6 separate regions of the Homo sapiens genome follow, and regions 1, 2, 3, 4 and 5 are each linked to region 6. Evidence: fine-mapped expression QTL. A gene starts in region 6. Each other region holds a variant in brackets. All regions are shown on one strand. Distances are from middle to middle. Region 1 has its middle 82 kb from the start of LINC02182. Region 2 overlaps ZNF469 (zinc finger protein 469). Region 3 has its middle 56 kb from the start of ZNF469. Region 4 overlaps BANP (BTG3 associated nuclear protein). Region 5 has its middle 52 kb from the start of LINC02182. Region 6 holds the start of ZNF469 (zinc finger protein 469).

Region 1 (5,071 bases), 110 kb after region 6:
GCACTGATATCTACATGGTACTGACCGAGTGTCAGCGTGGCACAGCACTAATGATATCTACATGGTACTGACCGAGCGTCGGCGTGGCACAGCACTAACTGTGCACTGATATCTACAAGGTACTGACCGAGTGTCAGGGTGGCGCAGCACTAACCGTGCACTGATATCTACACGGTACTGACCAAGTGTCAGCGTGGCACAGCACTAACCGTGCACTGATATCTACGTGGTACTGACTGAGCGTCAGCGTCGCACAGCACTAACTGCACTGATATCTACATGGTACTGACCGAGCGTCGGTGTGACGCAGCACTAACCGTGCACTGATATCTACACGGTACTGACCGAGTGTCAGCGTGGCACAGCACTAATGATATCTACATGGTACTGACCAAGCGTCAGTGTGGTGCAGCACTAACTGTGCACTGATATCTACATGGTACTGACCGAGTGTCAGCGTGGCACAGCACTAATGATATCTACATGGTACTGACCGAGCGTCGGCGTGGCACAGCACTAACTGTGCACTGATATCTACAAGGTACTGACCGAGTGTCAGGGTGGCGCAGCACTAACCGTGCACTGATATCTACACGGTACTGACCAAGTGTCAGCGTGGCACAGCACTAACCGTGCACTGATATCTACGTGGTACTGACTGAGCGTCAGCGTCGCACAGCACTAACTGCACTGATATCTACATGGTACTGACCGAGCGTCGGTGTGACGCAGCACTAACCGTGCACTGATATCTACACGGTACTGACCGAGTGTCAGCGTGGCACAGCACTAATGATATCTACATGGTACTGACCAAGCGTCAGTGTGGTGCAGCACTAACCGTGCACTGATATCTACATGGTACTGACTGAGTGTCAGCGTGGCACAGCACTAACCATGCACTGCTATCTACACAGTACTGACGGAGCATCAGCGTGGTGCAGCACTAACCGTGCCCTGATATCTACACGGTACTGACCGAGTGTCGGCGTGGCGCAGCACTAACCGTGCACTGATATCTACACGGTACTGACCGAGTGTCAGCGTGGCACAGCACTAATGATATCTACATGGTACTGACCAAGCGTCAGTGTGGTGCAGCACTAACCGTGCACTGATATCTACATGGTACTGACCGAGTGTCAGCGTGGCACAGCACTAATGATATCTACACGGTACTGACTGAGCGTCAGCGTGGTGCAGCACTAACCGTGCACTGATATCTACATGGTACTGACTGAGCGTCGGCGTGGCGCAGCACTAACCATGCACTGATATCTACACGGTACTGACTGAGCGTCGGTGTGGCACAGCACTAACCGTGCACTGATATCTACACGGTACTGACTGAGCGTCGGTGTGGTGCAGCACTAACCGTGCACTGATATCTACACGGTACTGACCAAGCGTCAGCGTGGCACAGCACTAACCGTGCACTGACATCTACACAGTACAGACTGAGCATCAGTGTGGTGCAACACTAATGATATATACATGGTACTGACCAAGCGTCAGCGTGGCACAGCACTAATGATATCTACATGGTACTGACCGAGTGTTGGCGTGGCGCAGCACTAACCACGCACTGATATCTACATGGTACTGACTGAGCATAAGTGTGGCACAGCACTAATGATATCTACATGGTACTGACCGAGCGTCAGCGTGGCACAGCACTAATGATATCTACACAGTACTGACCAAGTGTCGGCGTGGCGCAGCACTAATGATATCTACCTGGTACTGACCTAGTGTCAGCGTAGGGTGGCACTAATGACATCTACAGGGTCCTGACTGAGTGTCAGCGTGGTGCAGCACTGACCCATGCACTGCTATGATTCCAGTACTAACTCGTGCACTGTCTTCATGCGATACAGCCCGTGACAATAAACATAAGGAAAAAGGCAGGACGTGACGCGAAATCAAGCTTTAAAGAGAAGAGAAAACCGCTCCTTACCCCTGTGATGCCTGGCAGTGGCGATGTGTTCACTCCAGGGTGGGGGCCGGTCTGACTGCTGGGTTCCTAGTGCAGCCGTTTGCTCTCAGCCTCCGGAGGACTCTGCAAATCACACACAGACATTTAGGCTGAGGTGCTCGGCGGGGGTGCTGGGGAAACCAGTAGGGTGCAGCCCCCCAGGGTGGGCAGTTGCCAGGCCCCGTGGAGGA[G/C]AGGGGCCAGCTTGATGGCGCTTGTCTGAAATGCACTGACTTTCCTCCCAATCCCCCCTGCTTGCTGCACCCCCACTCCATATCCAGCGAGTGTGCTTGGATGGTTTTAGCACACTCGCTTACACGCACAGGGGCCTGGCCATCCCAGGACCTGCCCATCCAGCTTTCTGTGGCCTTGACTCCTGTGCAGGGGCCTCGTTTTCTCACCCCATCCCCCACCCCCAGGATGGCATCTAAGTCTGGATCACTCTGTTTGGTCGTTGCACTGTGCCCCAGAGGGGGTGTCCACTTGCTGGCCCATGTGGAGCCTGTTGGAGGGTGCCAGGCGGCATCATGCTGGGGGAAGGACTGCAGCGCTGTGGTCCTGCCGGGGTCGCTGCCACGGCCTCCCAGGATGGACTCTGCACTTTATGGGCCTGTTCCCGTGTTTTCCAGCCCCTTGGTCTCCATCTTACAGGACTCTGTGTCTCACTTGGGCTGTGTGAGCCAGGGGCTGGGGAGACACCTTCCCCTGTTCCCCTGTGCCCCGCCTCCTGGGGGGGTCTTATCCCCTCCGCCATGCCGCAACAAGAGTCAGGACCACGCTGCCAGCCCCACACTTCCTTCCCTAACCAGGGTCCTGGGAGGCTTTGGGGTTTGGGGGAAGGAGGAAATCAGGCTCGTGACAAACACCGGTTTAGAAGCTGCATGGGATTCAGAGCCAGCAGCCTGGACACCAGCCTGGTCTTTCAGTGCCTCAGTGTACCCACTCTAGTCATGAGGAGAAAGCCGCGCCTCCCTCTCAGGGTGATGACAGAGGTGGAAGGATGCTGTGAGGGCCCGAGCCACTCCAGGCACCCTCCCGCCATCAACGCCCCGGAAGGTGGGTGGCGGCAGGAGCTGTGGCTCTGAGGGGATCTCAGGAGCACTGGATTCTTGGTGCCTTCCTCAGCACCCGTCACCCCAGCTAACTCCAGCTAACTCAGCACCCATGACTCCAAGTAACCCAGGTAGCTTCCAAAGACATGTTTTCTTGTCTCTGGTGATGTTTTACATGTAAAAGTGCAGAGCACCGGAGGCTGGGGTCTTTGCATGGTGGCTGTGCTTGCTGGGATCCACTGTTCGGCCTCCCCAGGTGCTCGCCGGCCCCTCCCCATTTTATGTAGGATCGTTCGGACTGTCAGCGAGACATAAAAAAGCAGCTGCCTGCAGAGGCCAAATGCGCGGCAGGCTCCCGTCTCCACTGTCTAATTAATTAATCGTTTCCAGGTTGCAGAGCTCGTGGGAGCATTTGTGCCCTATCTCTCCAGCCCACAGACATGGGGGTGGGGACACCCAGGCTTCCCGGAAACCCCCTCCCACACACTCACTCTGTCTTTAAGGCAACTTTGCTCCTTTTTAGTTTTTAAATCAGAGTGTTGGCATGTGTGCGAGCGAGTGTCCAAGCGTGTATACGCTGTTTGTAAAACAGCTCGGCTGTTGCCTGGGGGCCAGTGCTGCCCCATAAGCAATGTTTGCCAGTGTCCGTCTGCGAACCATGTCAGGTCCATGAGAAGGTTCTCAGGATCCTACGGCCATGAGTGAGGGCTAAGGCAATACGGCGAGTCCTCCATGAAGCTACGGTGAAAGAAGTGTCCTTTACTCTAATAACTGAATAGCAGAATTGAACTGAATTCTGTAGTTTTAAAACCTTCTTCCAAGGATAACAGAAACACAGAAAAATGAGCAAGCAAGCACACCCCCACGGCCTTTTCACACAGAGCACACGCATGTCACCAGAGCCCGATCCAGAATCAGGACACGGCCTGCCCTCCCCGGGGGCCCCGCCCGGACACCAGCCTGTCTTCTGAAGGCAGAGGGTGGGCTGATCTGTTGTGAAACTTCTATTGGTGCGGTCACACCAGAAGCATGTGACTTCATGCAACACCATGTCTATGAGACTTATATTTCTATCTTTTATTGTGGTAAAATACACATAACATAAAATTTACCACTTTAGCCATTTCTGAGTAAGCAGTTCAGTGGCATCAAACACGTTTCCGGCATTGTGCAATCACCACCACCATCCACAGAACTCTCTTCAGCTTTCCAACTGAAACTCTGTCTCCATTAAAGACTAACTTCCCAGCCCTGTGAATCTCACTGCTCTAGGGACCTCACACCATGGGTATTAGACAGTTTTTGTCTTTTTGTGTCTGGCTTATTTCATTGAGCAGAATGTCCTCAGGGTCCGTCCATGCAGTAGCATGTGTCAGAGTTTCTTAAGGCTGAATAAAAAATATTCTGGCCAGGCGCGGTGGCTCACGCCTGTAATCCCAGCACTTTGGGAGGCCGAGGCAGGCGGATCACGAGGTCAGGAGATCGAGACCATCATGGCCGATATGGTGAAACCCCGTCTCTACTAAAAATACAAAAAATTAGCCGAGCATGGTGGCAGGTGCCTGTAGTCCAGCTACACGGGAGGCTGAGGCAGGAGAATGGCGTGAACCCGGGAGGCGGAGCTTGCAGTGAGCCGAGATCGCGCCACTGCACTCCAGCCTGGGCGACAGAGCGAGACTCCGTCTCAAAAAAAAAAAAAAAAAATATTCCACAGTGTGAATACACCACATTGTATGTATCCATTCACCTGTCCACGGACACTGAATTTCTTCCACCTTTTAGCAGTTGTGAATAGTGCTGCTGTGAACATGGGTGTGCGGATGTTTCTTTGGACCTCAGCTTTCAGTTCATTTGGGTATGTACACAAAAGTGGCTGAATCATAAAGCAGATATAGTTTTAATTTTTTGAGGAACTTCCATACCGTCTTCCACAGATGCGGTGCCATTTACATTCCCACCAACCTTGCAGGAGGGTTCCAGTGTCCCTACGTCCTTGCCAACACATGTTATTTTCTGGTTTAGCTTTGTGTTTTATGGTAATTATCTT
Region 2 (5,071 bases), 36 kb before region 6:
GGGGCCTCTGCTGGAGAAGATCCCTCGGATTGGGTTGCCCCTCCCGTTTCCCTTCCTCCCGACCCCCACTCACTCCTGGCCAACCACACAGGGGGCTTTGGGGCCAGCCCCACCTGGGCTTGACTCTCAGATCCCGCACTCCTTGACTGTGGGATCCAAGCCCCGTCCCAGCCTCTCTGAGCCCGTTTTCCCACCTGTGAAATGGGGATGATCAGAGTCTTGACCTCACAGGGTGTGGTCAGAGGGTTAAACAGAACAACGCAAGCCACCTCATGGAGCACACAAACCAGCACGCAGTGAGTGCCTAGCAGACGTTTGCTCAGAAGCATGGCATCCCTCTTCCAGGAAGCCCTCCTGGATTGCGTGTGGTGTGAACTCCTCGGGCGTGTCTCCATGATCCTGCAATTCTCAAAGGGCGCCTGTCGTTCCACATCCTGGTGGCCATCCCCTGGGGACCAGGCCTGGGAGCCCTGCACACTCGGCTGCACTGCCCAACTGGAGTGCCACTGTCCAATTGGGCCTCCTGGCCTCAGTTTCACCAACTGTAAATGGAGGTTGGATCTGATGGGTCCTTGGGCCTGTCTGTGACACCCTGATATCAACGCTCACGCAGTCCCACTTGCAGCCAGGCATCCTAAGCAACCTGCTCCTCCTCCTTGTGAACGGTCCCAGCCCTTTCAGCTGCATCCATCCCTGGTGTGGGGTAGGCTTCATTCTCCTGGTTGTTTCTGCTGTCGTCAGGGCTGGCCCGTGCCTTCCCAAACAGCAGGGACTGGCTCTCCCTTTCTCCTCAGCCCCTCTGTGGGGAGAGCGGAAAGCGTGGGGTTCCAGGCGAGGGGGAGCTGCGGGAGAACTGCCCTTTCTTCCCTCGTCCCGGTGTGGGAGTGGGGCCTGGTGCATGTGCCCTGTCTTCCCCACACATGGAACCTGCGTGTGGCCCCGCTTTCCAGACATGGCACTGGGGAAGGACAGCATGGCTGAGAGCTGAACCTGCAGTTGGGATCTGGCCCCCACCTGCAGCCAGGGTCTGCTACTGTGTGCTGTGTGGCCTCAGGCCGGCCTCCACCCCTCTCTGTGCCTTCCTCCCTTTGGCAGAGGAGGGCATTGCGTGAGCCCCACAGGCCCCCGAGTCCTGCCTGGCTCAATCCCAGCTCCAAGGCCCTGGCCTGAGAGAGAAGAGTGGGGACATGGGGCCTTCTGGGTGACCTGAGCGGCTGCTCTGATGATGTGACTCTTCAGCCGAGGCTTGGCCTTGGGTGAGGGTCTCTCAGGCATGGCGTTGGGGGCATTCCTGGCTGTTGGAGGAACGTTGAGGAGGGGTGGAGTGCTATTGAGGGGGCAGACGGCGCTTCAAGGGGTGGGACCAGCATGGGCTTCAGGGGCAGGGAGTGGGAGGCTGCCGGGGGTTAGGGAGGCTGTCCACACCCAATCCCAGGGCCCCACCTGTCCCACCCTGGACACCACACAAGGGCCAAGAAATATGTGCCATGGGGTGGGACCGGGCTGGGAAGAGCAGCTGGGCTTCCAGGCCGAATGGGGGAAACTGAGGCTCACAGAACCTGCCCAAGGTCACATGGCAAGTCTGGGGAGCAGAGCCGGGGTCAGGATGTTGGCCTCCCGTGCTGAGCTCTCCCGGTCTGTTTGGGAGGCACCGGCCCGTCCTCGGACCAGCTCGGTCCAGTCTGTCGGTTCCCTCCGGCCTCTGGCTGCCCACCAGGGCTGATCCTGTCCGAGCTGTGTCACCCTGGGCACCGTCCCCTGCTGTCTGACCCCCCTTCCGTGGCTTGGCACGGCCCCTGAAGCCAGCTAGCCTCTCCCCGATGGGTGTGGAGCACAAAGCCAGATGCCATGTGTGCCAGCACCGCTGGGCAGCAGCCTCCGGTCCCAGGTCACCCGAGACAGCAAGGCTGGGAAAAGGGAGGAGTTCGGCTGTGCCCCGGCCTTCATCCTGAGCATCGTGTCTGCCCATCACACCCATCCGGCCCCATTCACAACTTGGGCAGGCGGCCAGGCTCACCCCAAACCCTGGTGGAGCCGAGCAGCCCAGGAGAAAAGCACAGGGGCCTCCCGTCTGTAGTCCTCGCCGTACGGGGCTGCAGCGCTGCTGCCTCCTGACATTTATTTCACAAACATTCTCCTTTCCTTTTGCTTCAAACGCTGCCGCTTTGCTTAAAAACTATCTGTTACCTGAGTGCTCAGATAAACCTTTGCAGGTAAAATTATATCTGAGATATGGCCCGGAGGGTAAGTTTAAGAATACGGCGCAAATTATCAGCTGCATTTATCTTAATTACTTTGGGGGAAAGTGGAGGCCGGCATTGGAGGGGCTGGGGAATGGTGTTCGTCCTGTCTTATCGGGGTGCCTATTCGAGATCCTTTAACAGGAGGGAGATAAGGGGGCAC[A/G]TGGGGAAAGAAAATGATGTCTTCGAAAATGACAGGGAGGTGGCCGGGGGGGCGGTGGGGATTTGTGCTTAAAGACGGAGCCCTGCCACCCACTGAAATTGCTGAGAGCTGGCACATGGCAAGAGGCAGGCAAGAACGGCAGCCCCCCTCTCCTCTGCCCCTCTGTGCCACAAAGGCCAATATTCAGGGGGTCATTACCCAGAAGGACACCAGGACCTCATCAGTGGCCAGGCCCCAACCCAGCTCTGCTCAGTCTCCTAGACAACCCTCCACGGCCTCACCGAGATGGGCCTTCAGCTTTAGCTCCAATGCCACCTCCTCCAGGAAGCCCTCCCTGACCACAGAGCTGTTGCTGTTGGTCCCGGCTCTGTAGATGGTGTCCATTTGCTGCTGTACTGTCCCCTGTCCTCACTGCCGGCATCACACCGGTTGGGGCCGCAGGTCTTCTGCTTGCCCCCATCCTGGGCCTGGCAGGGAGTTGGTGCTCAGGAGCCCGGGTAGAGTCCAGCTGGGGCAGCTGTTATTCCTGGGGTCTCCAGGAGCTGCTCCTTGAACCTGGGGCTCTAGGTTAGGGTGAGGGACCAATTCGGGTGGGCTGCAGGGTGGGGACAGGCCTTCCCTGTGAGCACACACGTGGACACACTCATGCACACATATACAGGTGTGTGCAGTTATGCATGCTCATCCATGCACACGCGTGAGCACATGCTCATACGTGCATACATCCACACATGCCCATGCACACGTGGGCTCACGCACACTCCCCTGCCAGGCCATGGGGGGCTTTGGGGCCTCATTTCTATAGGAGACTCTGAGAGCTCCCCGGCACTGGGAGGTGGAGGTGCAACTGTAGCATGCTGTCCAGAAATGACTTTGGAGACACAGCCTACCCTCTAAATGTCAATGCTGTACCGGAGCCCAGCAAACGCCAGCTGCCTCCATCAGCACATTTGTCTGAGGGTCCTTCTCCCCTGCCCAAAGGGTGTAGGAAGAGGGACCATGTGCGGGGAGCGAGAAACGTTTGGGGGCCGCCCCGCCAGGCATCTGGCTTGCGGGGACTGGATTGGGATTCATTGGCCCCAGGAACCTTCTAGCAGAGCCAAGGTGAATACAGCCAGGCGGGTATCCCAAGGCTGAGACGGCTCGTCCAGGGTGTGGAGGTGGCAGGTGGTTAGAATGGGCAACGGTGCCCACAGCCCCAGAACCCACTTTAAAATCCAAAGACGGGGGTGCCTTTCTCTCATTGGCCGGTCGAGCAGCCCTGCCTTGGATTTCTAGAATGAGGATCGTTGAGGGTGACTCGGTCAGTGTGCCCACTTCACAGATGGGAACAGTGGCTCAGAAAGGGTGTGGGCCTGCCCCAGGCCACACAGTGGCGGAGCCTGGGCTCTTTCGCCCCTGGCTTTGAGCTCCCTTGCAGCGACGCTCTGGGCAGGGTGGGTGGGGGCCTTGCTCTCGGCCTCCTGGGGGAGGCCCAGCAGACAAACAGTCCTCCATGTGCCAAGCAGCAGCTCTGGAAAAGGGCAGGCGGTGCCCAAGTCTGCCTTTCTCTTGGAGCTGTCAGCCCTCACCCTGTCACAGCGAGAAGGAAGCCGAGTACCACGGAGACTCCACGGGACCCCAGGAGGACGCCCTGAGTGTGTGGGTGGCTGACCTTGACCTGACAGTCCCAGGCCCTGGGGTAGACGCCGACCGCAGGACAGGCCCCTGCTCAGGCTCTGGTCCCCCAAGAGGAGCCCTGGGTACCCCTCCCGGGGAGCGAGCGTGCCACTTCCTGCAGGACCCTTCTGCAGGCTGGGTCCCGTGGAGGGAGCCCTGGAAGGGCGAAGGGTGCGTGGTCCTGCGGGGTTTTGATTTTGTGGGCAAGGTTGTTACCATCCCTCCCCTAAAACAACCAATCACCACGTGACTGCTTGTTGATGCTAGAAACCCTAGTTATTTTCCATTACTCTTTCCCAATGAAGCCCTGCGTGCAATTTCTCACGGTAATGGTGGTGGCGTCTGAAGTGGCTTCTTTCAGTGGTCTTTTCTGGGGCCTACCCAGACTCTCTGGGTCAGAAGCTTCCGGCTAGGCCCAGAGCTTGCCTTGGAGATCCTGCCGAAGTCACACACCACTAAGATCACAACGTGTGACAGTGTGAAGCTGGTCTGGGTGGGAGGTAGGACGGGAGGCCTGGGTGTCGTCTGTCTTCCAGCGTGGGGAAGCCCCAGCAGGCCCATCTCACAGATGAGGACGCCCGGGCAGCAATAGCGTAAGTGAACTTCGAGCAGCCACCTGGATTCCCCTGTGCCGTCAAGTGGCCTCCTGAGAAGGTCACGGCCTCTGGTTTTTGGGAACGGAGCCCATCCCACCTCGAGTGAGGTCTCTGCATGAGAAACCGGGACCGATGAGGCCTACATGGGGGTCACCTGGTCCTCCCACTGCCCCAGCCGAGGTTTAATGAGCTGTCTCCTGAGTGACATGATTAATGGGTTTCTGCGACGCCTGGTGGCTGCGTTAATTACTCTCCCGCTGCTGTGGGGTTCGGAATCATATCAGCCTCCTTTTTCAATTAAAAGTGATTATAATTTTGCCTCCTAAGGACGAGAGGATTAGTGAAGTGCCCGGGGTGGGAGCTGGGTGGGGATGGGGTGTCCGCACTCTGGCTCTGCAGCGCTGGGAAGCGAG
Region 3 (5,071 bases), 56 kb after region 6:
TGGTCTCTGGGTTTTCTTTGAAGGACTCCGGCTGCGGGTGAACGTCGGGACCCCGTGGAGAACATTTAGGGCCCTGACCCTTCTTGCTGATTCGGTTTGACTCTGCTCCCTCCTCGGCCTCCTCCGCTTCCTCCTCGGCCTCCTCTGCTGTGGCCAAACTGCGTCTCCCCCACCCGCCTGCCCCAGCTGTTTTCTCTGGACACCTGGAATCCTCTCTGGTTCCTGTGTGGTGCTCACTGTGTGGGAAGCAGCCCTCCCTAGACTGGGCGCCTCTGTTGCTCACACCGCACCCTCTCCCATTGCACTCAGCTGTGTGTGCACATCCCAGCCCCCCGGCTGGAACGCTTGAGGGTTGTATCTGATTTCTTCTGGTTTTCCTTGTCTGGTGCATTTTGGGAGCCAGGGATGGAGGAGATCAGTGCGTTGGAGAAGAACCCGGGCCCTGGACCCCACAAAGATCCATGTCAGGCCAGGTGCATCGGATCAGCTTCCCCACAGAGCACACACTGATGGTGTCTTGCACTGGGGCCGTGGCGTTTCAGGTCCAGCAGCAGAGCTTCGACGGTAGCCATGCGGCCAGGCCCCGGCTGAGAACTGCCATGGCGTTTTCCTGGGGAACCTCCCTGGAGGTTGTGAAGAAGGCACTGCTATCATTCCCATCACACAGGTAAGGAAGTGCAGGCTGGGAGCCGTCATATGGTTCAGCCAAGGTCACACAGTCAGCAGCAGAGTGAGAATTTTGTTCCTCTACAGGCATTTTAAATACACCTTTAAGGCAGAATACAGTACACGTGCAGAAAGCACCAAGACTGAAGTGTCCGGCCTGGCCCATGACATAGCGTGCGTCTGCCTGCACAGCAGCCCCGGGCGAGAAGCACAGACTCGGCAGCTCCTCCTTCCCTGGGACCTGCGGATTCCTCGACCTCATCCCAGCTTTAGGACCGTGGCTCCCATGGCGTGTGCCCTTCTGTGTCTGTGGGAGTCGCCGTGTGTGCCGGGAGCTGCTGCTCTCCTGCCTGGGCAGCAGCATGGGTCGTGCATTCCCCATTGGCTGGGACAGCAGGTGGGTGTGCAGCCGTGATGGAGCCCGGCCGTGAAAGTGTTTCTGGTAGACAATCTCACGTTTCTGGTTTCTGCTCTGCTGGGTGTGTTTCCGGTGGGTGTGTGGGCCCCAGCTGAACTCGGGATCCGGCCGGTTTTCTCAAGCAGCCGGGCCTAGTCAGCTCCGACCACACTGCGGCCTCTCCAGCTCCTTCCGGATGACACCTGTGGTGCGGGGTCTAAGCATGGAGCCCAGGCTGCCCTGTCAGTGCTCAGTGAGTGTGCACGGAAGGTGGGAGGGGAGAGGGCGGTGGAGGAGCGGAGAGGAGGGAGGAACAAGGAGGTGGCCCTGGAAGCACTCAGCCCTGAGGTACGGAGCACGTGCCCTGTCCTGCTGCCGGTGACGCAGCCCACCGTGAGCACAGACCCCCCCCCAACCCCAACGTGATATGTTGAGGATGGCACAGGCCTGGCCCCTAGCTGGCCCTGGGAACCGCAGATGAGAACATTTCAGCACCCACACCATGCTTACGCCCTGGGATGGGGCTGCCTACCCGCTTCACAGGATGTGGCCTGCAGCCCACCTCGTCCAGGGAAGCAGGTGAAGGTGCATCTACCAAAGCCAGGTGGCAGGGGTGCTGCACAAAGGAGAGGCGAGGCCGGGAGGACCAGCGTGGCGAGGCGGGGGCTGGCGTGAGGCTGAGTGGATGGAGAGGCAGACCCAGAGAACCAGTGCCGGGGAGGCAGGGGCTGGTGTGAGAAGCCCCAGTGGTGCAGGCCACAGGGTCCCACAGGCTCTGGAGAGGCGGCCACCCGGGGCCTGGACCTTGTGCCAGTACGAGGGACACTATTTGGGATGGGGGATGGCCCCACTCCTGGGGTCCAGAGTGGCGCTTCTCCTGAGGTCCCACAGCAGATGCTGAGGACAGACCAAGGACATCAGGACCCTCCGCCCATCAGAGAGGCGGGGCCGCCCTGACCCAGGAGACAGCTCAAACCAAAGACAGACAGACAGGAGGGAGAGCGACGGGGAGGGAGACAGGGACACAGGCCGAGAGAGGTGGGGGTGCTGCTCCTGGGCCCCGCTGCCAGGTGGGCATTGGGTACTCTGCCCAGTTTTCAAGAAAATGAAGTGCAGACAAGGCAGCCATGGCTGAGTCAGGAAAGAGCGGGGGGGTCAGGACCGGCCCGAGTGCTGCCCTGGCCAGGGAAGGCCTGGGTGTCACCCTCTGATCTGGGATTGTTCTGGAAGGTCTCTAAGGTGCTTTCACAGCGGGGGTCCCATGAGTCAGTGACGTTAAAGCAAACACCCCAAACCCGAGGCCTCCATGTGAGTGCCTGCGTCAGGCACTCTGGTCCTGACCTCCATGTGAGGTGGCTGGAGGGTGGTCCCTGGGAAACATGCGGTGTCCTGCCCAGCAGTGTCACTGCCCTGGGCCTTGGGTGCTTTAATAAAGTGGTTCTGGATGTCCCCGAGGCCCAGGAGCAGCAGAAGCTGCAGTCCCTGGAGAGTGTCTCGAAGTGTATTAGACCATTTTCATGCTGCTGATAAAGACATACCTGAGATTGGGCAACTTACAAAAGAAAGAGGTTTAATGGACTTACAGTTCCACGTGGCTGGGGAGACCTCACAATCATGGCAGAAGGTAAGGAGGAGCAGGTCACTTCTTAAATGGATGGCAGCAGGCAAAAAGAATGAGTTTGTGCAGAGAAACTCTCATTTTTAAAACCATCAGATCTCATGAGGCTTATTCACTATCACGAGAACAGCATGGAAAGAGCCACCCCCGTAA[T/C]TCAATTACCTCCCACTGGGTCCCCTCCCACAACATGTGGGAATTCAAGATGAGATTTGGGTGGGGACACAGCCAAACCATATCACAAAGGCTCTGAGACCAGGACATGTCTGTGGCCCATTGCTGGGGCCTCTGGGTTGGCAGCCCCTCCTCTCTGCCTACAGGATCACACTGGCTGGGAGTGGGGAGGGGGCGCAATCACAGGCACAGTGGCCACCCCTGGACTGACTGACAGGTGTTGTTAGCTCTATTGCTCACAGTGTACAGCTGAGGAAGCTGAGGCTAGAGAGGAAGTGGCGTCCTTCAGGTCTAAGGGGGCAGAGCACCGATCCTTCTGCCCTGCAGCCCCATCTGGGATGCGTGGAAGAAAGGAAGGAGGAAAGGGAGGAAGGAAGGAGAAAGAGGGGAAGGAAGGACCAGGGTAGCCGTCACACGGAGCATTTGAGTGGCAAGGCCCTGTCTGTCCTGGCCCCACTGCAGACTTTTGGGGTGACATTGAACAAGTCACTTTCCCTTAGGGGGTCTCACAGGCCACAAATTGCATGAGGGATGGGACCAGGAGCCCTAAGTGGCAGAGGCCCTTCCAGCTCTACCACCCTGGGACACTGTGTCCTGGTGTGGGTATCAGTGTCATTTCTGGCCATGCTGGGCTTGGCGCCACCACACATAGTGCCCCTGGCTGCAGTGGTGGGGCCACGCCTATCACTGACCTGTGTCCTCCGGGTCCCCTGGGCAGGGTACTCAGCGGCTGCCCCGCCTTCAGGCATGAATTGGGAAGAGTGATGCTCTGGGTGGAAATTGTGCCTCTCCCACTGTGACCCTGATGGTTGCCCCAGAAGCTGGCCACCAATTGTGCAGTCTGGTGGGTGTCCTGGGTCTGAGCCCCTGCGGCCCCCCGGGGTGCACCTCGGGCAGCTTACGGAGCCTGTAGGGACCACCTGGAGTGTGCCGGTGAGGACTTGAGGCCCTGTGTATGTCACAGCTGCTGTCGCGACCACCTGGAGTGTGCAGGTGAGGACTTGAGGCCCTGTGTATGTCGCAGCTGCTGTCGGGACCACCTGGAGTGTGCAGGTGAGGACTTGAGACCCTGAGTATGCCGCAGCTGGATGTGATCTCAACCAGAAGCTGCTGGAAGGATATTTCCCAAGGGCACCTCCTCCCTCTCTCTTTTCCTCCTGCTCCCACTGGCTGAAGTGCTGGATCCCCCTTCACCTTCCACCATGACTGTAAGTTTCCTGAGGCCTCCCCAGAAGCAGAAGCTACCATGCTTCCTGTACGGCCTACAGAACTGTGAGCCAACCCTCTTTTCTTTATAAATTGCCCAGTATCAAGTATTTCTCTATAGCAGTGCAAGAACAGACTAACACAGCTTCCTCCAGCTGCCCCCTCTGCCCATCAGCATAAGACACACCCACCGGCACCATGACAGTTTACAAACGCAATGGCAACATCTGGAAGGTGCCGCCCCCTTTCTAGAGATTTCTGAATAACCTTCCCCTTAATTCGCACATACTTAAAAGTGGGTATAAAAACAGCTACAGTCCCTTATGCACTCACCCTGGCGCACTCCCTGTGGGTTAGCCCTGCTCTGCAAGGAGCAGCAACTCTCTGTACACGGCCGCTTAAGTAAACCTGCCTTCCACCACCAGCTGGCTTTCAAATTCTTTCCTGAGTGAAGCCAAGAACCCTCCCGGGCTGAGCCCTGGTTCTGGGACTCTCTGCATCACAGCCATAGGAGAGGACAGCACTGAGGCCTGGCCACACGTGTGTTCACACCTGAGAGCTCTGGGGAGGTCAACATCCCAGACGGCACAGCTGTGACACAACAGCCCCCCACATCCTTCCACCCACCTCCCATAAGGGGTGTGTGTGGGGGTCTGCGTCTCTGCCTTTGAATCTGGACCTTTTTACTTCTTGGCCAAAACAGAATGCTGCAGAAGTATTGCTCAGAAAATTTCAGGGCTGGCGGTCCGAAACTGACAGCCTCTACTTCCTGCCTCTTGGGACCCAGCCCTCATGCTGTGAGGAAGCCCAAGTAGCCCCGAACAGGCCCCGTGGGGAGGCGCTGACCACAGGCCCCTGGCCAGCCATGTGGTGTGCCATTTTTGCGGCGGATCTCACCCCAGCCCAGCTGCTCCAGCTGAAGCCTGTGTCACTGAGGTGAGCTGCTGCCCGCAGGCCCTGACAACCATTGATTTGTGAGCAAAATAAGTAACTCTGCTTGGTTTTAGCCACTA
Region 4 (5,071 bases), 360 kb after region 6:
CCCTCGCATCCTGACCCCAGCCCCAGTCACAGCTCAAGTTCCAAGAGTCGCTGCCAATGCAGCTACTGTGGGGAGCTTTAAGAGAATAGTTTTCATTCAAATACTTACTAAAATATTTTGAGATGTCTTGGGTGAAAGGCAGTATCAAGTCACATTGTCATTCCTAGTGAAAATTCTCCAAGGAGAACAATCCCCCCAGCGATGCCTGAGAGGCAACTCAAAGAGAACTGTTTCCATTATCTTGTGGATAAATCCAACTAAGGCCATGAACTCAAAGCAAAAATAAAGCATAATTCAGAATCCACCCCACTTCTTCACCCGGAGTCACCCGGCAAATCGTGAGAATACAACGGCCGGCAGCCCCACGCAAAGGCCTCGGCCTCCTTGCCCCCATCCAGAAGACTTCCGGGAGGCCCAACAGGCCCTCTGTCCCTCACGGAGGAGCCTGGAGCAGGCCCGAGGCTGTCCGTGTGAAGGGCGCACGGGGCCAGGCACAGGTCCTGCGGCTCCACTGCTCCGTGCGCACCGCGCAAGCCTCTGGCCTCGGCTCCCGGCCACTGGTGGAGCCGCTGGCCACGCACTGGCTGCCCCTGAGGGTGCCACCAGGCCAGCTGCCCCGAGCGGGGGAGGGCGGCCTCTCCTGCAGCACGAGGCCTACCTGAAGGGCAGTAGGAGGACGAGTTGGGCGTTCTCCGCGAGAAGCTCTTGACCGCCAGGCTCTGGCCCCGCTGCTTGCGCCGCCACGCCGTGCGGCACTTGGAGTCGATGCTCTGCTTGATTCGGTACCAGTCGGATTCTGTGATGCCAAATTTATAGAAAAGGTGACCTGGAAGGACACATCCAAGGAGAAGCGGTGAGGCCTGTTCGGGACAGCCACCAGGAGCTGCCTGGCTGCAGGGCCGGGGCCCGCTGAAGAGGCCTCACCCAGGCACCCCAGCCCGCCAGGCCGGCCCCGTCTTCCTGCAAGGGTCTGGAAAGGCCCACTGCACAGAAGGTGCTTAGCTGGCCCACAGGCGGGGCTCCCCACGAGATATAAATGCTCACTAAGGTGTCATGACACACTCTTTCCATTTACTTAACTTCTCGATCCCTCTGACTCGGTCGGCCCACACCAGGTGCACACTTGGGGCTCTCACAAGATTCCCAGACCTTCCACGCCCCAACTTCCCTCTGCCCTGAGCTCACAGCAGCACCCAAGGTCCTGAATGCCCAGAGGGTGAGATCAGGGACCTCAACAATTGGATCAGAACTCGCTGGTCCTCTGCCTACTCGGGCCTGCTCGGCCACCGCCTTCCCTTCCTTCATGTCCTGGCTTCACCATCCCCCTGGATAACCACCTGGCCCTCCCGCCCTCCTGGGCTCCCACCCTCCTCCCACTTGTTTTGTCAGAGCACTGACCACCTTCCGGCATTTGGAGAATTCATGTGTGTATTGTTACTCTGTCCCCCTCACAAACACAGTTTCGAAAATTCAGGTGTGTATTGTTACTGTTCCCCTCGCAAACACAGTTTGGAGAATTCATGTATGTATTGTTACTCTGTTCCCCTGGTAAACACGGTTTGGAGAATTGAAGTATGTATTTTTGTTACTCTGTCCCCCTCATAAACACAGTTTGGAGAATTCAAGTTATGTATTGTTACTCTGTCCCCCTCACAAACACAGTTTGGAGAATTCATGTATGTATTGTTACTCTGTTCCCCTGGTAAACACAGTTTGGAGAATTCACGCATGTATTGTTATTCTGTTCCCCTCGCAAACACAGTTTGGAGAATTCATGTATGCACTGTTACTCTGTCCCCCTCATAAACACAGGGGCCTTTGTTGTGTCCACCCATGGGGGTCAGGCACCCAGAACATTCTGGCGCACAGTGGCTGCTCCTGTGTAAATAGTGATGACAACGGACTGCAAGACACCCTCCCATCGCTGCTCAGGTCCGGGGCTTGCTTATGTCATTCCCGACGCCTCTCTATCGTGCCTTCTCAACTAGAGTACAAACTCCTTACGGGCAGGGCCTGTGTCCTCATCCCTGGAGTCCCTATACCACAAGCCGAGTGGGCACAACCTACTCTCACTGTGGGGCCAAAGCCAGGTGCATCGTCTTCCTGGGGCTCACCGTGCACACGCAGAGAACTGTCCTGGGACCCCCAGTTCTCTACCACCTGCGCTACGGAGAGCTCTCAGCACGCCCTGAGCAGCATCCAGAGATGCCCTGTATTCAACAGGGAGAAAACTGAGGATCCGAAGGCCACGGCGGAGCAGGTGACAGGAGGGAGCCAGCGCCCCACTGCACGCCCGGCCACTTCCCACTAGGCCACAGGACCCCATCCCTGTAGCGATGACGAATGTGGGCATGATGGGAAGGGCTCTTCAATGCAGTGGCCTCTCTAGCTGGCTCATGCAACTTCACTAATTTACAGGAAAATACATGGATGGAATCCAAAATTGTAGTAATAAAAAGATTAAGCTGAAAAGTGTCCCGTTTCAACTACCAAGAGCCTCAAGTTCGGACTCTACTGCCCAAACCCTAAAAATCTGTTCCCATTGAGACTAAAATGGTGGAAATAATTAAAACAGAGGAAGAAGTGTTTGGGTTTTTTTAAGTACTCGATTAGGTATCAAAAGTCCCTCGGGTTTTGGAAACATGCCTCTTGACTTTCTTATCAGTAGATACTTGAGACACGTTTAGAATCTCTGTATAATCACAACCAACCTGTCTGTGCTGCAGACAAAAAGAAACCAGTCAGGACGGTGGGATTTGTAGGATGAGAGGGAAGAACACCCTAAAGTGGTTTCGGCAGCACATTTTCATCCTCATGCATAAAGAAGCCATACAGGAAGCAGCCGCCCTTTGGCTTCCAATTTTCGGGTCATCTCTAAAATACTCCAAGTCACCCTCGAATCTTGGCTGGGTGACTC[G/A]GGCGCCTCAGGAAGCCCCAGGCTGAGCAACTTTAGTGACTCACAGAGGAACCCAGCCGCTGGCTGTGGTCATGGGGGAACCCAACCATTAAAATCACTAGGAAATCCTTACAGGAGAGCCCAGCTGCTGCCAGAGGTTGCACCATAGTTACCGGAAAACCCAGCTTTCAAACTGCACTTCAATAGTTTCATGAGAGCCCAGCTACTGATTTTAGATACAAAGCAGCCCAGCTGCTGCCACCGGGAGGGCAAGAAAGAAACAGCCATCCCACCAGCAGGAAAACATCTTTGGAGCACGAGTCGATAAAAAGAAACATCCTCAGAACCGCCCTCCTGTGACCCTCCCACCTTCACACTCCAGGAGAAAAATTCCATAGACTTTGAAGGATGAATGAGTCCATACAAAATTTAAAAACGGGTTAGTAACAGGAAAGAAGATAAATCTAAAACACCCAGGTGTATAGGTAAGAGAAATGGGTGAAAACATTCACATTTAAATTCAACTTTGTAAAAATCAAGTTGCCAGTTCAAACCCTGACTCACACTTATTAAATAAAAAATATATATTCATCTGGTTACCCGCCACCGAGTTTCCATTGTCCTCAGACATCAAATTATCTAATTCCTTCCGTCTGCGCTCCAGGCCCCAGCCTGGGCGAATGCCCCCTGCCGGCCACAAAGGAGATCCAGAGAACGGACCAGCCGCCCAAGTGCTGCCCGCAGAGTGCAGTGGGTGAGGAGGGCGAGGATCTGAACATGCACTTACGGGTGCAGGCGCCGCCCGCAGATGCTACTGGACAGCAGCTGGGGCAAGCGCCCACGTCTGGGCAGCCCTCAGGGCTCGGATTCCTTTACCTTTTCTGACAGCACTGAGCAGCCGCACTTAACAGGGAGCGGGAAAAATCCTATCATGATGGGATCAAAAGATCACCTTGAATTTAACTGCCATTTTCCACTTTAAGCATTTGATCTCATGTTATTTGACAGACATTTTTTTTTAAAAGCCTCATGAAGTAGGAATGTCACTACTCTCATCACTTTGGTTTTGAGGCAAAAGCCAGAAAAAGGAGAAGTGATGTGTCCAAGTCCAATTACTAGTTAGGAGTGAGCACCGGCCTTAAAGTGCAAGCTTCCTGGGCCCACCAGGTGAAGAAGCAGCGGCCCTCACTGGATCCTGAGAACCCATGAGAGGTGCTCGGGGAGACGGGAAGAACACGCACAGCCCCGCACACGTGACTCTGCTGTCCTGAGCTCCCTCAGCCCAAGGCACCTGCAGCCCCTGCTCTGGGAGGCCTAGTCGGACTTCAATCGAGGCAGAAGTCTCCCCTGCAGCAGCGCCCAGGACACAAGGAGAACAGAAGTGCTCGGCATCCGGCTGCTGAGGCTCACGGGATCCCCACAGCGTGGCGTCACCTGGGAGCAGAACACCCTGTCTGGCCTCAGTCCCTGCTTTCCCCAGCCATATCCCCACACTACACCAACCGAGGCCCCTCAAGGCCGGGACGGGATTGCCTTCCAGGCTCAGCCAGGCAGCATCCCTGCCACAGTGCACGCCTCTATTTTCCTGGCGAGCTGTTCTGCAGTCCCCAAAGAGCTAAAGAGTCTCCACTACACCGTTAGCTGCCTTCCCACTTTCCAGAACCCCCGTTACTGACTCTGGTGGTTCAAATCATAAGCCGATTCCCAGCTCTCCATCTGTGGGGCCATGAGAGGCACTGTGGGAAGCGAGATGAGAGAGCCAGGAGGGCTTGTCATCTTGTGCCTTGGTGGGTGGCATGGGGCTTTATCAGTCACAAAGGAATGAAGAGCCCCACCTGCTAACACACTCTCATGTGCAAGGGAAGGCACCACAAAACCGAGTGCCAACAACTGATTTCTTCAAATTACAGACTCGACGTGACAGCGCTGCCTAGAAAAACAAAAGGCCTCTGCCCGATGGAAGCCAGCTGACATGCTCCCTCCCGGGGGAAGCATACACAGCTCACGCCCCATGCACCTCAAACGTCCAGCCTCCAGGCCAAGCCGGCCACCTTCTTCAAGCCTGCTGACTCACTCCTTTATGAGAAAAAATGATGGAGAGACACCTGTCCTCAGTCTGTTAGCCAGAGAGCCCCTCACAGCCACCTGCAGGACCACCTCCAGGTCACAGCTTCT
Region 5 (5,071 bases), 240 kb after region 6:
AGACTCTAGAATATGGACACGTCTAGCAAACAAGGAGAAAACAGCTACAAAACCCAACAAGTTGAACTTCTCACTTCACTGTCTGAGGCTGAAAAGCAAGGATAGAGCTTCGCCTTCTCCTTAGAGTTCAGGATTTCGCTGGGCCACACGGGTGATGACAGAGAGAACATACGTCTTAAAGAGGCTTTGGAATCAAAGGCCAAAAATTAGCCTAAAACATTTCAAATGCAGCACACACTGCGTCTGTGACCTCATCTGTCCTTGAAAATAGAAAAATGTGCCTCAAAGAGCAAGAAAAATCTTTAAATGTCACGTGTCACGGGCTGGGGTGGCTGGAGGGACGTGATGTCCTCCGTCCTCTCCACCAGGGCAGAGGCAGCTGGCGTTAATCACACCATCCCCTTATCTCTGCCCTACCTCCTGAAAGGACATGAGACAGCTACGTTGACGCCAGGCAGAGTCCTGTTTTATTCTGGTTATGGCATCTCCTGGCCAACACTGTGCATGGTTCCCGAAGTTAAACGTGACCCAATCAACAAACAGACGTAGTAGGGACTGGCAGCTCTGCCGGGACCAGAGAGACGCCCCCCGCCCTCCCCACCACGCCTTTGGCCTTGTTGTGGCCTCTGTCCCACCGGCTGCTCACTGCCACAGGCTGGACCAAGCCTCTGCCCTGCTCCGGGACGGCCCCGGGCGTACCTCTTCCATCCCCTCCTCTGGGGTGTGAGGCCACTCCCCACTCCTGTCTCCCCAGCAGGCGGGTTCTGCCTCTGACCCTGCGCCGTTTCCCCTGCGCCTGGCACGTGGCAGACCCTCGTAAACGCTGACGATGGGCGGGAGGAAGGGCAGATGGGAGGCCCAGAGCCAGGGGCTCTCGGTGTCCTTGCGAAGAGGAAGGCAGCGAACACAGGGAAATAGCGGCGGGTCCTTGGTCTGGTGCCGCTGGCCGCCAGCCAGGCAGACAAGTGAAGATGCAGGAGACACAGAGCCAGTGCATGGCCTGGGAGGACACAGGCAGGGGCCGATCAGAGGACACATCCAGCCGGGACCGCTCCCCGCAAGGCTGCGACTTGTTCACAACGTTCCCTTAATTAGAGCAAACGTGTGTGATGTTTCTGACAAGCTGTCATCATTTAACAGCAAGAGACAGACGTCAGACACAAAGGCAGCATTTTCACCCGTGTCTGACACATGTCAGCCCTGGGCCTGGGCCACCTCCTGGCTTTCTTCTCCTGCTGCAGGGAGACGCATGGCCATGGGCCACGCATGGGGGGAGCAGAGGCCCGAAGGTGGGGGTGATCCCCACTTCCAGTTCCAGGCTGGTGGTTGCGTCTTAGGGGGAAGGAGTGGGGGGGCATCTGTATCCCCCCAGCAACAAGGAACACAGCCTCGGTGCCCCACCCTGCTCGGCGCCCCAGCCCGCTCTGCACCCCACCCCGCTAGGCGCTCCACCCCGCTCTGAGTGGTGCCTCCTTAAGGCTGGAGACGGCCCTGAGTGCGTTAAGCACGCTAACCTATTCCATCTTCATGGTGTTGAACAGGTTGGAACTGCTGAAATCTCCATTGACACAGGGGGAAACTGAGGCACAAAACGATCAAGCACTTGCCCCTGATGCCATGACTGAAGAAGCTCCAGGTGGGCATTCCGTGGGCAGGGCCGCTGAGCCCCCCACCCCCCCAGGGCTTCTCCAGGTGAGGATTCGGTGAGTGCTCACCGGGTGTCGGTGAAGTGCCTGGGGCCCCATCTCAGCCTGTCTCCTCCCATCCTAATCACAGGCCGGTGAGGTGGGGATTGCCACCCCCAGTTTTCAGGCAGAGAAACTGAGACCTCTGCTTGTCTTTATTCCTGAGACTCTGATTCTGCCGCAGGGGCTCTCCCTGAGGGGCCCTGTGCTCTCAGGCCCCTGTGCGTGGAGGGTGACGATGCCATCCGTCCCACCCTTGTGGGCCATGCTGGCCCCAGGCTGCACATCCAGGTGGGGCTGGGGATTAAAGCCAGCACACAGGTGTGACCCACATCAGGGACCCTCGGGTGGGATCCACAGCGACGCAGCTGCTGCCGGCCGACTCCCCGCAGGGTGAGCTGATGAGCCTCCCCAAGCCTCAGTTTCCTCCTCTGTAAAACAGGGTGGTGACATGTGCTTTATAGACCAGGCAATAGAGTTCGAGCCCCAGGGCCACACCTGGCACATCACGTGTGCTCAGTAAACAGAAGCCATTCTTCAAGCTCCTGAGACTTGAGGCTCACGCTGAGGTCTGTGCTGTTGATAAGGACCTTCTCAGTCCTGAGGCTGGAGTTCAGTGCTTGAGGCTCACACTGGGCTGTTGATAAGGACCCGCTTAGGCATCACTCTGAGCTTTTCAAGGTCCCTCCCATCTATTTCCACTTTCGAGCCTCAGGATAACCCTCGCAGGATTCTGGCCCGCCAACATCATCTGCCCAGCCTGGATGGCAGGGCCAGGGCCAGGAGGTGAAGGTCAGGTGCCTTCGCCTGACCTAGCAAAGCAGGGCAGGGCTGTGGCTGAGAGCCCAGGGAACCTGCTCACCCTCCCAGGGCAGCCTTTCCCAGACCCCCCGCCCAGCCGGGTCTTGCAGGAAGGACAGCTGATTTATTCTCACCTTCTTTCTCTGCTTCCCTGTGCTGAACGTGGCCCTGCAGTTTCACCCTGGACGCACCCTTGGACATCGCTGTGTTGTTCCCCTGGAAGCCTGTTGAGATCCTGGCCGC[T/C]GTGGACTATTTCCTATCATCTGCATCAGGCATCTCGAGCTCAGCTCAGATCTGCACACATGAGCCTGTCTGCGTAGCCTCCTGCGGCTGCAGTCACAAATGGCCCACAGACTTATGGCTGAAACAACACGAATGCATTCTCCCACAGCTCTGGCGGTCAGAAGCCCAACCGGCTCTCACGGAGCTGAAATCAAGGTGTCGGCAGGGCTGGTCCCTTCTGGAGGCGCAGGGAAGAATCCCTTTCCTGCCTTTTCTGGCTTCCAGAGGCTTCTGTGTTCCTGGGCTCATGGTGCCTCTGACGTCACCACGACCTCTGCTGCCATTGCCACTGCCTGCTGCTGACCCTCCTGCCCCTGGCCTCCCGCCTCCCTCCTACAAGGATGCCCGTGATGACCTTGGGCCACCCAGATGACCAGGATGGTCCCCACCTGGAGGCCTCTCGCTCAGTCCCATCTGCACAGGCCCTACTGCCGTGGGAGAGGCACACAGCAGGCTCCGGGGACCAGGACGGGGGTGCCTCCCAGGACCTCTTTCCCAGGCTGAGCGTTTCATAGCAGGCTCCGGGGACCAGGACGGGGGTGCCTCCCAGGACCTCTTTCCCAGGCTGAGCGTTTCATAGCAGGCTCCGGGGACCAGGACGGGGGTACCTCCCAGGGCCTCTTTCCCAGGCTGAGCATTTCATAGCAGGCTCCGGGGACCAGGACGGGGGTACCTCCCAGGGCGTCTTTCCCGGGCTGCATGTTTCTTTCCTAGTCCGACTCTTGTCTTCTAACACTGGTTTTGGTGTCTTTTGTTACACAACTGCTTTAACTTCTTATGTAACTGAAGACGTCCATCTTGTCCTTTTTGGGATTAGAATTTGGGGTAGAAAGTCTTTTCCTCCACCAGAATTATACAACTATTCTATTTTTCTACTAATACTTTTATACTTTTTTTGCAATTTAGCGGATTTATCTGCACAGAATTTATTGTGTCCGTAAGGTGGGGTTCTAACTTTGTTTTTCCAGATGGTGGATTCATTGGCCCAACGATGCCTCTGAATGATTCTTTCCTCTCTTTCAAACGTGACCAATTTCCTACATTAAATTCTCTTGTAAAGGGCCATACGCTAGACTTGATTTTTTTGTTTTTTTGTTTGTTTGTTTTTTTGAGACAGAGTCTCCTTCTGTCACCCAGGCTGCAGTGCAATGGCATGATCTCAGCTCACTGCAACCTCCGCCTCCTGGGTTCAAGCGACTCTCCTGCCTCAGCCTCCCAGGTAGCAGGGATTATAGGCGCCCGCCACCACGCCCGGCTAACTTTTGTATTTTTTAGTAGAGGTGGGGTTTCGCCATGTTGGCCAGGCTGGTCTCGAACTCCTGACCTCAAATGATCCACCCACCTCGGCTTCCCAAAGTGCTGGGATTACAGGCCTGAGCCACTGCGCCTGGCCTCAATTTAAAATCCACTTACCTGTTTCTATACTGAAATTCCTCCTGGATTAACACAGTTTTAGAGTATATTTTGGTAACTAGAAGGGCAAGGCCCCCGGCTTTTCTGCAGGATCTTTGAACATCGCGTCTCTCACGTTCTGCCTGCTCATTTGTAAATCAGTGTTGTCACTGACTTTCCGTGCTACCCCCCGATTTCTACGTGGCTCCGTCCTCCTTTCCTCCGTGCTACCCCCCGATTTCTACACGGCTCCGTCCTCCTTTCCTCCGTGCTACCCCCCGATTTCTACGTGGCTCCGTCCTCCTTTCCTCCGTGCTACCCTCCGATTTCTAAATGGCTCTGTCTTCCTTTCCAAATATTTATTCCTCCGTATTGTATTTCCCCGGCCACTTTTCTTACCAGCTCTCTTACAGCTTCCATTTAATATAGCCAAAGTTTTTTTTTATGACTATATTTTTCATTTAAATCGGTTCTGCCACTTCAATGCCAAATCCATTTCTCTTGCTCTGGACTTTCATTATGACTCCCTCTTTTGTATTAAATAATTTTAGATAAACACATGTATTTCCTGCTGTTCAATTATTCCCTGTCTGCACAGTGCTGATTCTGTGTTCACTGCACTTGATCCTGACAGTTCGTTTCTTCCTGTGGCTGTTTATTGGAGCTCAAACTCGGTAGGAGTTATTTTGTGTATCTTTTGTTGTTGATGCTGTTGTTTGGAGACTGTCTCACGAATGCTGGGCTGAGGAAATGTCCTCATTTACCAGATCCTCTGGCCTGGGGTTCTGTGAATTTCCGTCTTAGGGATTCTGTGCTGTGCTAACCATGCAGTCACCAGACTCAGGTGTCGAGAAGGTCTGGAGATTCTATTTCTTATGGGAAACTTCTTTCCTCTACTCAAAGCCTGGACA
Region 6 (5,071 bases):
TTGAAACCATCTGGGCTCCAGATGAGTCCACCATGGCCTGATATCTAGGGCACTATCGGTGGTGACAAGACTCCAGGAGAAAGGAGGGGAGGGCATCTCTGCTTCCAGGCCACCCTGGTGTTCAGGTTTACTTCCGTTCAGCAAACACGAGGAAAGGGCAGAAACCCACTGAATTTCTCCCAGGGGAAGGTGGCAGGATGGGGCCTGACCAGGAATGTCAAGTCAGAAATGACCTGAAGAGATTAGGCATACAGGGGGAGACCATCCCTATTAAAATTATCCAAAGGCAGCCATGTGTAACAGCTGAGCAGATGTGCTGCCTGCTGCCTCAGGATGATGGACCAGTGCATTCCAGCTGGTAGGACTGCAGGAATGGCTGGAACAGGCTGCTGTGATGGGGAGTGAGTTCCCGGTCACTGGAGGTATCCAAGCAGAGTCAGTAACCTGGAGGCAGGGTCTGGTGGAGACTGAAGCGCTGATGAGGGGGTTGAAGTTCATGACCCCAAAATTTCCCTTGACCCTGAAATCCTGGGACTTCCTGGTTTGCACACTGCCCAGAGCTGCCAGCCTCGGGGCATTACAGCCACACACCCTTCACCTGTGCCTCCCAAGCTGAGACTCTGCGGGGCCCCTGGGTTCCCTTTGAGAAGGCCCTGGCCTTCCTTTTTGCCTCAGATATCCTCTTCCTCTTTTCTATTTGCAGGGCAGAATGATCACCTCCCGGTGAGCTCTGTCCTGTGGTCTGGGACCTGCCAGGCGCATGGCATGGAAGACACGTCTCCCAGGCCACCTCCTCCGAGGGTGCCTGGCTGCCCTTCCTAAAACTGCAGCTCCGCCCCAGCTTCCGAGCTCCCTGCTCAGCCCTCACGCCCGACGCTGTCCAGGCATTTACCTGTTTATTTTGTTTATTTTCAGGAATGCAGGGCTGTGGGCTGTGCTGGGGGCACCTAGGACAGGCTGGGCACTGAGAGGGCCTCAAGACACCTTTGTCCACCCGACCGGCAGAAGGGAACTAGACTTGCTCTTGGCAGAATGGGCAGGGGCTGTCCACGACACTACCGCGTGCTGTGCTCACTTCCCAGCATCAGCCCACTCTGACCATCAGTTTCTGCATCTAAGACTTGGGTTAACACGGATCTCAGGACGTAAGGATTAAACGTGATAACACGTGGCACACTCCCTATGCCCAGCATGGCTCACGGCTGGGGATGAAGCAGTTAACCGCCTCCGCTGCAGGAGCGGACTTGGCAGCTGAGCTGCCCCCCCGCCCCCGCCGGGGACCTGTCCCTCTGCCCTCGGCCCAGGGTGCAGGGACAAGGACTGGGTGGCCGCGGGAGTCCCCCGAGCCCCATTGGCCTTCCCTTCCGGCCGCCGCCACGCGGGGCGCCGCGTCCCCACGGGTCTAGACGTCCAGCCAACTTCCCGGCTCTGCAAAAGCCTCTGGGGGTGCGCGGGGCTGGGCGGGGGTGCGGCGTGGTCTCCCCCAGGGTGGGCTCCAAAGCTCCCACCCCCGTCCGGGGCGCTGACACCGCCGACTCGCAAGCCTATGCCGCGCTCGGAGCGCCGCGGGGCCAGCACGCCCGGGCGGGCGGCCCGGAGGAGGCGGCGGCACGGCTGGGGCACCCCCGGCTCCGATCCGCGATGAATGGGGCGGCCCGGGCCCCGCTCCCCGCAGCCCCGCCCGGAGGTCCCGCTCCCCGAGCCCCTCGCTCCGCGGCCCTCGCCAGTACGTTGCCCGGGCGCTTCCCAAACTGCCCACGGAGCCGGACCCCGCGCTGCCAACGCTCCGCTCCGGGCAAGGCTGCGGCCCCCGCCGGGCCCCGGCGCTCGCTGCCCCGCACGTCCGGGCCCGGGAGGAGGAGGTCGGGGGAGCCGGGCCGGGCGCCGCGAGCGCTGGGAGGGTCCGGCCCCGCCGGGGAGCGGCCCCCGAGGGCGCAGGAGCGGGAGCCGGGCCGGAGACCCCCGCGCAGCCCGGTGACACCCCCGCCCCGCGTTCCAGCCCGGGGTCCCCAGGCACCGCGCGCGCCCAGGCGGCGCATCCGCACTCACCTCCGCTCCGAGGCCCGCTCCGCCCGCCACGCCGGCCGCCGCCAACGAGCTCCCGGCCCGCGCCGCCCCAGCGCTCTGCAGCGGAGGCGCCGTCCTCATCCCGACCGCAGGCCCGCCCGGGCCGCCCGCCCGCCGGGCACCGAGCCGCTCTGCCGCGCGCTGCGCCTCGGGGCGGGGTGGGAGGAGAGGGAGCAGCCGCCACCCTGCCCAGGTCGCCGCGGGCCAGCCCTGCAGCCAGCTCCAGCCCTGGGCCGGGTGCTGGGAAGGCCGGACGCCGGCCGGCGGCCGCGGGGTCTGCCCCCCGGAGGCTGGGGCGGCTTAGGTTACAGACTCCGCCGCCCCCGCACCCTCCCCCCAGCTATTTTTAGCGCCGCTTTTCCTAGGTGTTTGTTTCATGGGACCCACCCCGGCGATGGGGGGCCCTGAGGCATTGCTCCCTGAACCCCCTCTTCACACTCCCCAGCCAGCCCACCCCAGAATGGCAGGCCTTGCTGCTGAGACGGAAACGCTGCATTCAGCACAACTTAAAAAACGTCTGCCATAATGCTACCCATGTGGCTTCCAGTGGCTGCTCTATCTCCATCCCTGGCCTGCGCTCCAGCTCCCCAGGTGCCCACACATGACACGCTTGTCCCTGTGCTTCTGTCTAGGAGGTGGGGGATGTCCCGACTGGCACCTGGCACCTGCCTGGGCAAGTTCGGTTTGAGTGGCTCAAGTTGGCCCTCGAAGGCACCATAAGGAGGTCCCCATGGCACGCTTTCTCATAGGTGGGAGCTAACATTGCCCCCAGACCTTCGTGTCTCCACTCTGGGTCCCTTGTCCAGCCCTGGGACTGCCCCAGACTGGCCCGTGAGTTCGGCAGCATTGCTGGTGGGGCGCTAGGAGCCATCCAGGCCCCTAGAGAGGGAGAGGCCCTTACCGGTCATTTGTCCAACATCTCCATTCACAGCCAAGGAAACCAAGGCCTGAAGAAGACAAGGAACCTGCCCAAGGCCACACGGCGGAGATGGCTCCAGGCAGAGCCCCCTGGCCCAGTACGTGCCCGTCCCCGGCTGTCCCAGACAGGGGCGTGTGGGCCTCCTCCAAGGGCAGGGGTGCAGCGTTACGGGCAGCATCTGGGGACGGATCGCCCTCCCCCACTTCAGAGGATCCCAAGTCATGAACTTGGTGGACTTCTAAGAAATAGGGTGGCAGTGGGGGGACTTCGCAGAAAGGAATGCTTTCAGAATTAGTCCTTCAGACAAAGGTCCCCCGGGAGCAGGTCAAGCACGCTTTACTTACGCAAGTTCAAGTTGCACACCCTTTTAAGGACACCTTTATTATGTAAAGCAAGGTGTGGCCTAACCACGGGCCTTCTGGTGGAGCCAATGAGTGGGCCTGCCCCTCCCCCAATCTGGTCTGCCTCCTGAAGCTGTTTTGGGACTCTGCGAACGGTATAGAATAAACTAAAAGGAACTGCACATGGCAGTGGGGTTTCTGTGCTGGCATCGCAGCACATGGCATTCCTGCCAGTGGACGCGAAAACGTGAATTGAAAAAGGGGCAGGGGCTGAAAGGCCCCAGAGGCTCGAGGCTTGGCTCACATTTCCATGGCATCATCTGGGGCCTCCAGGTCCTGGGATCTCCCTTTCCATGGAAAATGGGGAAGAACTAAGAAACCCTCTCGAGTTAATCAGGATTTCAATCAAGCGGGTTTCCTAAAGTTTCAAGGGCCAGGGGTCCCCTGGCTGTGGACAAAGACCCCAGAGGGCGTTTCCTTCCTTCTCGTTTCTACTGGGTCTGTTCTTGTTTCTAAGAAAGACTTCAATTTCCAAACCCGTGTGTGTGTGTGAGAGAGTGCATGTCTGTGTGTGAGTGCGTGTGTGTGAATGCATGTCTCTGTGTGTGAGTGCATGTGTGTATAAGTGTGTGTCTGTGTGCGAGTGCATGTCTCTGTGTGTGAGTGCATGAGTGCATGTGTGTGAGTGCGTGTGTGTGAGTGCATGTCTGTGTGAGTGCGTGTGAGTGCATGTCTGTGAGTGCGTGTGTGAGTGCATGTCTGTGTGTGTGTCTGTGAATGCATGTGTGTGAGTGCATGTCTGTGTGTGAGGGCGTGTCTGTGTGTGAGTGTGTGTGTGAGTGCATGTCTGTGTGTGCGTGTGTGCGAGTGCATGTCCGGGTGTGTGAGTGCGTGTGTGAGTGCATGCCTGTGTGTGAGAGCGTGTCTGTGTGAGTGCATGTGTGTGAGTGCATGTCTGTGAGCGCATGTGTGTGAGTGCATGTCTGTGTGAGTGCATATGTGTGAGTGCATGTCTGTGTGTGAGGGCGTGTCTGTGTGTGAGTGCGTGTCTGTGTGAGTGCATGTCTGTGAGTGTGTGTGAGTGCATGTCTGGGTGAGGGCATGACTGTGTGTGAGTGCATGTGAGTGCATGTCTGTGTGAGTGCGTGTGTGTGTGTGTCTGGGTGTGTGTGCATGTGTGAGTGCATGTGTGTGAGTGCATGTGTGTGAGGACGTCTGTGAGTGCATGTCTGTGTGTGAGTGCATGTCTGTGTGTGTATGAGTGCATGTCTGAGTGTGAGTGCATGTGTGTGAATGCATGTCTTGTGTGAGGGCGTGTCTGTGTGTGTATGAGTGCATGTGTGTGAGCGCATGTCTGGGTGTGTGCGTGTGTGAGTGCATGTGTGTGAGTGCATGTCTGTGTGAGGGCGTCTGTGTGTGAGTGCATGTCTGTGTTAGTGCGTGTGTGTTAGTGCGTGTGTGTGCATGTCTGTGTGAGTGCATGTGTGTGTGCACGTATGTGTGAGTGCATGTGTGTGTGCATGTCTGTGTGTGACTGTGTATGTGTGAATGCATCTGTGTGAGTGCATGTCTGTGTGAGGGCGTGTCTGTGAGTGCGTGTGAGTGCATGTCTGTGTGTGAGCGCATGTGTGTGAGCGCATGTGTGAGTGCATGTGTGAGTGCATGTCTGTGTTTTAGTGCGTGTGTGTGTGTGCATGTCTGGGTGTGTGAGTGCACGTGTGTGAGTGCATTTGTGTGTGAGTGC

Evidence for each region. PIP is the estimated chance that this variant, and not a neighbour inherited with it, causes the effect.
Region 1: its variant is the best candidate, but not a certain one, in a credible set for the expression of ZNF469 in whole blood (TOPMed, PIP 0.90).
Region 2: its variant is the best candidate, but not a certain one, in a credible set for the expression of ZNF469 in whole blood (TOPMed, PIP 0.72).
Region 3: its variant is the best candidate, but not a certain one, in a credible set for the expression of ZNF469 in tibial artery (GTEx, PIP 0.88).
Region 4: its variant is the best candidate, but not a certain one, in a credible set for the expression of ZNF469 in whole blood (INTERVAL, PIP 0.71).
Region 5: its variant is the best candidate, but not a certain one, in a credible set for the expression of ZNF469 in whole blood (TOPMed, PIP 0.63).

What each region holds. Positions count from the first base shown.
Region 1 is chr16:88,273,462-88,278,532 of GRCh38, reverse strand. It overlaps a transcript of ZNF469 not described here. Among named protein-coding and RNA genes, the nearest start is that of LINC02182, 82 kb to the right of the region's middle. RefSeq lists an enhancer at 3,074-3,879. The variant G/C (reference allele first, on the strand shown) is at 2,167.
Region 2 is chr16:88,415,931-88,421,001 of GRCh38, reverse strand. The region is part of intron 1 of ZNF469 (zinc finger protein 469); the gene reads right to left. Among named protein-coding and RNA genes, the nearest start is that of ZFPM1, 35 kb to the left of the region's middle. The variant A/G (reference allele first, on the strand shown) is at 2,404.
Region 3 is chr16:88,323,959-88,329,029 of GRCh38, reverse strand. It overlaps a transcript of ZNF469 not described here. Among named protein-coding and RNA genes, the nearest start is that of ZNF469, 56 kb to the left of the region's middle. The variant T/C (reference allele first, on the strand shown) is at 2,835.
Region 4 is chr16:88,023,238-88,028,308 of GRCh38, reverse strand. BANP (BTG3 associated nuclear protein) reads right to left here. Exons shown (of 14, transcript NM_001386991.1): 8 at 659-826. Among named protein-coding and RNA genes, the nearest start is that of BANP, 74 kb to the right of the region's middle. RefSeq lists an enhancer at 599-1,169 and a silencer at 3,446-3,692. The variant G/A (reference allele first, on the strand shown) is at 2,918.
Region 5 is chr16:88,139,740-88,144,810 of GRCh38, reverse strand. It overlaps a transcript of ZNF469 not described here. Among named protein-coding and RNA genes, the nearest start is that of LINC02182, 52 kb to the left of the region's middle. The variant T/C (reference allele first, on the strand shown) is at 2,730.
Region 6 is chr16:88,380,233-88,385,303 of GRCh38, reverse strand. ZNF469 (zinc finger protein 469) reads right to left here and starts at 2,345. Exons shown (of 3, transcript NM_001367624.2): 1 at 2,050-2,345. RefSeq lists enhancers at 2,986-3,529, 4,074-4,618.